2 separate regions of the Homo sapiens genome follow, and region 1 is linked to region 2. Evidence: fine-mapped expression QTL. A gene starts in region 2. The other region holds a variant in brackets. All regions are shown on one strand. Distances are from middle to middle.

Evidence for each region. PIP is the estimated chance that this variant, and not a neighbour inherited with it, causes the effect.
Region 1: its variant is the best candidate, but not a certain one, in a credible set for the expression of SEC22C in testis (GTEx, PIP 0.87).

The regions. Positions count from the first base shown.
Region 1 is chr3:42,667,898-42,672,285 of GRCh38, reverse strand. It overlaps LOC124906232 (a long non-coding RNA gene), which reads left to right. Exons shown (of 3, transcript XR_007095893.1): 2 at 1,758-1,875; 3 at 2,584-4,388. Among named protein-coding and RNA genes, the nearest start is that of KLHL40, 15 kb to the left of the region's middle. The variant G/A (reference allele first, on the strand shown) is at 2,259.
Region 2 is chr3:42,579,812-42,584,199 of GRCh38, reverse strand. It overlaps SEC22C (SEC22 homolog C, vesicle trafficking protein), which reads left to right and starts at 2,233. Exons shown (of 7, transcript NM_032970.4): 1 at 2,233-2,354. It also overlaps a transcript of SS18L2 not described here. RefSeq lists enhancers at 1,818-1,947, 1,940-2,766 and a silencer at 2,148-2,477.

The DNA of each region.
Region 1 (4,388 bases), 88 kb before region 2:
AGAGTCCAAGATCAAGGCACCAGGAGATTCAGTATCTGGTGAGAGTTTTGTCTTCTTCATAGATGGCACCTTCTATTGTCCGCATATGGCAGAAGGAGCCAATTCAGTGTCTTTGCAAGGTGAAAGGACAGGTAGCTCCCTTCAACCTCTTCTATAAGGGCCAGTAATCCCACTCATGAGGCAGAGCTTCCTGACTTAATCACTCCCCCAAAAACCTCACCTCTTTATACTGTGGCATCGTGTTTTAGGTTCCAACAGGTGAATTTGGGGTTTGGTGGGGGGACACCAGCATTCAGACAATAGCACCATCTTGACCTCATGACCTGTGGCTAAGTAGGATGGAACATCTTCCTGTTTTGTCTTCCTTGATGTGTATATTAATAAGTCAGGGCTCTGCAGAGAAACAGAATCAATAGAATAAAGAGATATAAGAGGGGGTGTATTATGGGCATTGGCTCATGTGATTATGGAGGCCGAAAAGTTCCACAATCTGTCCTCTGCAGGTTGGAGACCCAGGAAAGCTGGTGATGTAATTCAGTTTGAATCTGAAGGCCTGAGATCAAGAGGAGGTGATGATGTAACTCCCAGTCCAAGGCGAAACGCAGGGGAACCTGGAGTTCTGATGTCTGAGGGCAGGAGATGATGGATGTCCTGGCTCCAGAAGAGAGAGTGAATTCACTTTTCTTCTGCCTTTTTGTTCCATCCAGGCCCTCAATAGACTGGATGGTGTCCACTTATATTGGATGAGGGGGGATCATCTTTACTCAGTCTACTGATTCAAATGGTGATCTCTTCCCAAAACACCCTCACAGACACACCCAAAAATCATGCCCTTACCAGCTATCTCGGTGTCCCTTCATTCAGTTAAGAGTACACCTAAAACTAACCATCACACTGGAAAAGATGTATGTATATATATTAATTTTTTCCCCTCATAGTCTCCTTCTGTTTTATAAAGAGCCTGGTTGCTGATGGTTCCATTTAACAATACAGTCCCCACATTTCAGAACACCAAATGGGATCACAGGAAAGGAGCGGCAATTACCAGCAGATCCTGGATTTGGAGCCAGATGCAGTCAGTGATGAGAAATTACAGTGTCCCCTTTTGGGAAGAGGATGAATACGTTTTTATTTATTATGAGGAAGGTTGTTAATCAATAGCATTTTGTTGTTCCTGTTGTATGGAAGAGGGTGTATGCTGTTGTTGGGCTGTGAAGGGCTAGATTGTGGGGCATGTTTGTTATACTTTGTGGCCACCCAGCATGTTTGCAAAGCCTTTTTCTGATTGGGAATGAAGTACATAGGGCATTCCACCTACCCAACATAGAAAACACAACTTGCTTCCCCAGCCTCCCTTGCAGCTAGTGAAGTAGGAGGTTGGACTCAACTCTGGAGGCGGGGCTTGGACACCAGACCTAATGAGGACTAGCTGAAACAGGGATGGAGTGGAAGCAGCAGCTTTGCATAAGACATGCCCACAAGTGTGCCATGTCAGTTTACCATTGCCATGGCAACACCTGAAAGTTACTGCCCCTTTCTATGGAAGATACCAACCTTTTCCTAGAAATTTCTGCATAATCCCCCCTTAATTTGCATGTAAGTCAAAGTGGGTATAAGTATGACTGCAGTCCTGCCTCGGAGCTGCTATTCTGGGAACACTGCCTATAGGGTAGCGCTGTTCCACAGTACCAGTACCTCTGCTGCTGCTTCACTAAAAGTCGCTAACACCTCCGGCTCACCCTTGAATTCTTTCCTAGGTGAAGCCAAGAACTCTCCCAGGCTAAGCCCCAATTTTGAGACTCGCCTGTCCTGCATCACTAGGGCATAAACGTGACAGATCTGACACTTAGACACACCCACATAAGACTGATTCAGGTAAGAGGAAAGCAATGAAATATACTGCAGACTTGTGTTCTCTGAGGGTGGGGCAGAGAGGGGTTTAGTTTTGGTGGGAGGGGCAGTCGAGACAGAGCTTCTTATGAGTAGCCTTCAGCATTGTTAGTTCCAAGCTGGGATGACAGTCACGCCTCCCCTAGGGCAAGTGGTGCAGGGTGGTTTGGGTTTGTTTTTGGCTGCATAACCCCAAAGGCTGAGTCTCTGGTTCTCCTAGAGATTTAATTGGTTCTTCTGTTTGCAACCAATAGCCCTGGTTCACCACCCACTGCCATGCTCTCCTGAATGCCACTGTGTACCAAGTACTGTGCTGAATGAAGGGGACGTGGCATTGTTCAGAGCTTAGAGAACGTGGCTTTGGGATC[G/A]GACAGACTTGGGTTCGCATCTGGCTCCACCACTTTCTGGCTGTGTGCAAGTGGCTTTACCTCTCTGAGCTCCTTTGCTTAGGTTATCAGCAGTCTCAGAAGGTTATGGTGAAGAGTGACCACAAAGTGTCCCCAACACATGAGAGTTATAGTCTTAGGCCACAGCTTCCCAGGTACACAGGCATAGTTTTGGCCACAGGGGTTTCCAGAAGCCCTATCTCTAGCTGGAGAGAGGCGGGAGTGATGGGGAAGTTCAAGGTGGGGTCCTTTGGAGCTGCTTTTCCTTCCCTGTGTGGGATCCCATTCTCTTCTCCATTCTCCACAGGTCCCAAGGCTGTCATCTGTGGTGGCAGGAGGTTCATCCCATCTGCAGCCAGTGGAACCTTAGGAGGCAGTGCTCCTCTATTTTATTGCTGACCCTCCAGAGACTTTAGAAAGCAGCTCTACAGGCTGGATACCTCTCAACCTGACCTCTGGAGACTGCAAGGCCCAAGTGTAGGAAAGGATATGGCTACTCACCTATCTTTTTTTTTTCTTTGAGACAGAATCTTGCTCTGTCACCTAGGCTGGAGTGCAGTGGCGTGATCTCGGCTCACTGCAACCTCCGCCTCCCAGGTTCTAATGATCGTAATGATCCTTTTGCCTCAGCCTCCTGAGTAGCTGGGATTACAGATGCATGCCACCATGCCTGGCTAATTTTTTTTTTTCATTAGAGATGGGGTTTCACCATGTTGGCCAGGAAGGTCTTGAACTCCTGACTTTGAGTGATCTGCTCGCCTCAGCCTCCCAAAGTGCTGGGATTACAGGCGTGAGCCACCGTGCCTGGCAGCTACTCAACGATCTTTCCAGCTCTCCTCTCCTTCCGGCCACACAGGAGGGTTGCGTGTCCACACCCCCCTGAAGTAAGGCATGATGCCAGAACTTGCTTTGGATGATGACACAGAAACAGCAGTGATACACCACTTCTGGATGGCAGCACTGAAGAGCCAAGGTGTGATTCTCCAACCTGTCTTTTCCCTGGCTCTGTTCAGTCTAGAGGCCCATGTTGATATGGAGGTGCCCCAAGGTCAAAGCCTGGAATTCTGGGCCACCAAATAGAGAATGACTGCCCTGGAACATCCCCTCAGAGCCACAGATGTTGAGTCACTGAGGTTAGGAGGTGGTTTGTTACTGCAGCAGAACTCAGCCTAACCTGACTTATTCACCAGTCCTGGTTCTAGAAAGCTACATAATCAGGGGGTAGGTAGGCCCAAAAGCACCACTAAGCCAGGGTGCCTCACCTCCCCTCATTGATCCTTTAGAAAGAAGGAAAGTCCGGCCTTCCCCAGCAAGGCAGTGCTGCTCTGACCTATGCATGCTTCAGGACATGAGATGTTAGTGAGCTGCTTGGTCCCAAAGAGCAAGATCAGGGAAAGTGAGTGCTCCAGAGACACCAATCGTGGTGCCCACCATCCCACAGCCACCCAGAGGCCTCTGCCCCAGAGCCTAGGATGACAGTGTCCAAGACTCTGGAGTGTGAAGGTGGAAATGCTGTGAGAATGAGGGAGGTGGGGGGAGGGCTGGAGGAAAAAGAGGTGTCATGCAACCTGATATAGGAGGAGGTCAACAGAGTGGAAACACAGAGATGAGTGGAATCTGCACAAGAGTTGGGGGAGCAGCCAGGCCCCCAGGCCTGTCAGCCAGCCTTGTTTCAGGGTCTCTTGAGCAAGCCTGTGTTTCTTCCATTCATAGCAGGACTGTGCAGAAAGGCAGTGCCAACATCCTAGGAACCTGCACCTCCTTTCTGGCCAGTCAACAAATCCACCCATGAGACTTCTCTCCCAGTCCCTCCCAGTCCTGTCTGACCCTTTTCTACATATACAGAGTTAAGTGCCACAAGGAGGCTCATTCTGCACGTGTCCCCGGGGCCTAGAATTCCATTTGGCATGGAGTGAGTGCTCTCTGTATATACTACTTGTGCCATGAAACAATTCTGAGTTCCCCAGGGAGAGCCATCTGCTCCTCTGGAGGCTACCACCTGTCTTCCATCTGAGCTTTTGTCTTCCCGGGTGCCTGAGTCAGCATCTCTGTTATCTGGCCCCTTCTGACCTCCCCTGCCTGCCGAGGGAGGAATGAGTCCATACTGCTCAT
Region 2 (4,388 bases):
TGTATTAGTCAAGGTTCTCCAGAGAGAGAGAACCAATGTGATATCTATATATCTACAATATAGATCTATATCTATAGATATATGGGAGGGGATTTATTAGGGGAACTGGCTCACATAGTTATGGAGGCTGAGAAGTCCCACAATAGACCATCTACAAGCTGGAGAACCAGGGAGGCTGGTAGACTGCTTCAGTTCAAGACTACCCTGTCTTAGACTTGGCCTCAGAACCAGGGAAGCTGAATGGTGTATCTCCCAGTCCAAGGCCCAAGCCGGGAGAACCTGGGGAACCACTGGTACAAGTCTTGGAGTCCAAAGGCTCAATACTTGCTAAATGAATAAATGGACGGACTCTACTACCTAATCTCCTAGAGTTAGGAGATTAGGGGAACGGGGAATTCTGATGCCAAGGGCAGAAGAGGGGTGTCCCAACTCCAGAGTAGAGAATTTGCCTTTCCTCTGCCTTTTTGTTCTATTATGTGGTGCCTGCGCATATTAGATGAGGACAGATCTTCCTTACTCAGTCCATTGACTTAAATGCCAATATCTTCTGGGAACACCCTCATAGACATACCCAGAAGTAATGTTCCCCCAGCTACCTGAGTATCCCTTAACCTAGTCAGGTTGACATCTAAAACTAATCATCGCAAAATCCTAACCAAGTCTCAAAGGTGCCTCAAATTCAACTTGTCTAAGATGGAGCTCAAGATCAATCTTATCTCCTCTTCCAGTGTTCTCCATATCTGTGAATCCCTGCACCATCCATCCATTTATCCAAGGCTGAACAGTGGCATCATCCTTGAAGCTGCTTCATCGCCCCTTCACATCCAACTCATCACCAAGTCCTATTGATTTTGCTCCTACATTTCTCTGCAGCCTTCTTAGATCTCTTTTTCTTCACTCTCACCCTAGTCCACACTCCAGCTCCATTCTCTCTTGCCCAGATGACTGCACTGGCTCCCAGGCCAGTCCCACCATAGCTCTGTTGAGACTTCTCCATTTTGATCTGCACTTTAGCAGCCAAAGTGAGTTTTATAAAATGCAATTTTGACCAGTGTTCTATGGTCCTAAACTTTCCACTATGGTCCATAAAATCCTACATGGTCCTGCCCCTTCTATTCGCTCTAGTGGATCTCACTCCACTCCTTTATTCTCTAAACTCTGAGTTTCTTTTCTTTTTGTGGTAAAATGTACATAACCATTTTTAAGTGTGCAGATCTGTGGCATTTGGTACATTCACATTGTTGTGTGATCATCACTACTATCCATTTCCAGAACTGTTTCATCTTCTCCAGCTGAAATTCTGTACCTATTAAGCACTAACTTTCCATTTCCCCCTTTCTGGGTTTCTTTTCATCCCTCAAAGGAGCTCTGCTGCCTTCCACAGAGTTCTTATATACATGCTAATCTCTCCATCTGAAACACACTTCCTCTCCCCTTTGCCTAGTTAGCCTCCTGTGATTCCCAACACCAGCCTAGAAGCTTCTGTAAATTCTCCCAAAACCCCTGCTCCTCCCTGAAGAGCAGTTTGTATTTATACAGGTGTTTGATTGTTTGAAGGGTGCTCTCACCCTGCCTCCTCTCTTAACATAGTTTTTCGTGTCAGGAATTCCTCGCTTTGTCCACAACCCCTGGCACATAGCAGGTGCTCAATACTTGCTAAATGAATAAATGGACGGACTCTGCTACCTACCTAATCTCCTTCCAGCCAGTCATCCATCTGTGGGTGCCTCGGTCCCCAGCTTGGGGTGTGTCCCCCTGGGTCGGACTTTGGCGCCCCATCCAGGCTGGCAGTAGGTTGTGCTCTTTGGTTTGCCTATCTCGGGCCTCCCGCCCAGCCGCGCGGACCGCAGAACATACGCCCCGGGCGTTATCACTCTGTCACGCGGAGCCTCCCCGCCTCCAGACGTCAGTCCGGTTGCTACCCCGGCAGGAATCGAGCTTAGATCACGAAGGCTCCTTCTCACCTCCGGACGTGAGAATTACAGGCTTGGATCTCAAACCGCCGCGGTGAGAGCCGGGAGGTGGGAAGAAAGTTGGGAGGCGCGCGCCCCCGTCACACTCCCTCTCCGTTTGGGTCGCAGCCCTTTAAGAACCACTACGTTCGCGCCTTCGCCGGGACGGGGGCTGTGGAGGCGCGCCGGGATTGGTCGGTTTGGGTGCGGGTGTCGCTTAGCAGCAGCGAATGCGGGGTAGGGGGGAGGTGGGGTGGCTCAAGACTCGCGCACGCGCACCACGGCCTACCTGCGCCTGGGCTGCCGGTGACCTGGGCCGAGCCCTCCCGGTCGGCTAAGATTGCTGAGGAGGCGGCGGGTAGCTGGCAGGCGCCGACTTCCGAAGGCCGCCGTCCGGGCGAGGTGAGGGCTGGCGGGCGGAGGCGGGTGCCGCGGCCCGTTAGCCAAGAGCAGGCGGGTTAGGGTGTGGCGCAGGGCGGGCCCAGAGGTGGAGGCGGCCCAGGGCCCACCCGGCCCTCAGTCCCGGCCTTGACCATGGGGCTCCCCACGGGGCTTCACTGGGCTTCTTGGAGTCCTCTGTCCCCTTTCTCCCGTCAGCCTGTTCCCGGACCCCGGGGCCACCCAAGGCACGCGCCTGCAGGAACCCTGGGCTGACAGATGGGCGCCAAGGGCTTCTCCCAGTTGGAAGAGATGGGGAGTGAGAAAGGGGACGATTGTTTCTTTAACCATTCACGAAGCTCACGTCAGAGCATTGTTTAATCTGAATAGCAAACTTCCCTTAGCATGCCCGTGTTATTAGACTTTAAATATTGGATACACTGAACCAACTTTTCAGAGCACTAGGTGTAGGACGTTCCATTACAGGTTTTGTGTTCATTACAGATTTACACATGTACCTCCAGAGCCAGAAGGATAAAGCACTCGGGGAAAAATTAGGTTTGTAGAAATAAAAGCCACGGAAGACTATTGCCAGTGTGAAAAGTAATTGGTGAAATTTGTGACATGGTCAGAAAAAAATACAGCTCAGAACCAACATATAGGGTAATATTTAATTACATTTTGCAGAGAAGAGTTGATCCCACTAAAGATAATTTTAGTAAAATGAAAAATGGAAGCAACTGGAAATGGTTTAACGTTGCCAGATAGAATTAAATAAACAAATAGTGTTTCCTCTGGAAAGTACATTTTGGACAATGTTAATAGCTCTGATTTAAGTGTTTGCATTTGCAACAGAAGCCATCTTGGAGTCAGTGTTTTTTATTCTTAGAATAACTTAGAAATCAACTAAATTCAAAAAGTAACATGATCATAGAGAGGACAACCTGACTTCAAGGTAATACAGTGGATAAAGAGCAGTTGTAACAAGTGTAATCTCAGGCTCCTTCCTCTACCAACAGGTCTCTGATTAGCTTATTAGTGCTCTAAGGAGAAGAAATTATTTTAGAGAAAGGGAGTAGCTGTAATTCCCAAAGTTGGATTTGTAGAAGAAGGATGTGGTGGAAAGATCCTAGGCTTTAGAATATTTGAAGTAAGGAAGTCTGGGTTGAATCTAGCTTTACCTCTTGAGCCTTACAGCTGCAGTTTTCCCACCTATCCGGTATAGATTATGTCTACCTTATAGTTACAAGCATTTAATAACATTATCAGTGTAAAAGGTCCTATCAAGTTTAGTTCCCTACCCCTCTTAGTTCCTAACAAATGACGAAACTGACCTCTACCCTCCTCTTCACTCCATCCCCAAGCAACTTGGAGCCTTAATAGAATCTACAGATTTGGTAACCAGTTCTCAAGTCCTGTGGCTGAAGGTGAATTCAGTAAGGGTGGCACAACTCAGTTTTGTCTTCTGTATTGTGTATTTGAGTCTTCTGTATTCTGTATATACTTTATGGTGAACACTTTGTGTTTGAATATTTGTGTGCCAAATGAAGCCTGTTTTGTCTAAATTCCTATTTTGCAAGGTGCAGTCATCTCTCTCTTTCTCTCTGTTTTTCTCTTTCTTTCTGTCTCTCTCAGCCTCTCTCTCTCTCAGTGCATGTGGTAGGGGCTTGAGGAGGGGTTAAGGGTAAAAGGTGGAAGAAAAAACAGGATCAAGGGTAGCCTGCAGCATAGGCATAAAGTCTTTGTTAATAGAACAGAGATAATCTATGACATGAGCAGTTTATAAACAGATGCTGGGAAGAAGATTTAGGAAATAAGGGAGGCAAATTAAAATATGTTTTTATAAAACCTAGTAACACGGATGCTGTGTATTTGATTACTACTTCACTCTACTTTTAGACAAATTTCATCTGTATAAACCTTTCTCTTTTTCTCTCCAAATACAGATTTATTGTGGAAAAGTGTTCAAACTGTAGATCAGAACTATGGCAAGGGATCTGTAAACCTGCATTTCTTGTTTCAGTGAGCAAAAATAAGGCAGCCCTTAGGTCATTCATT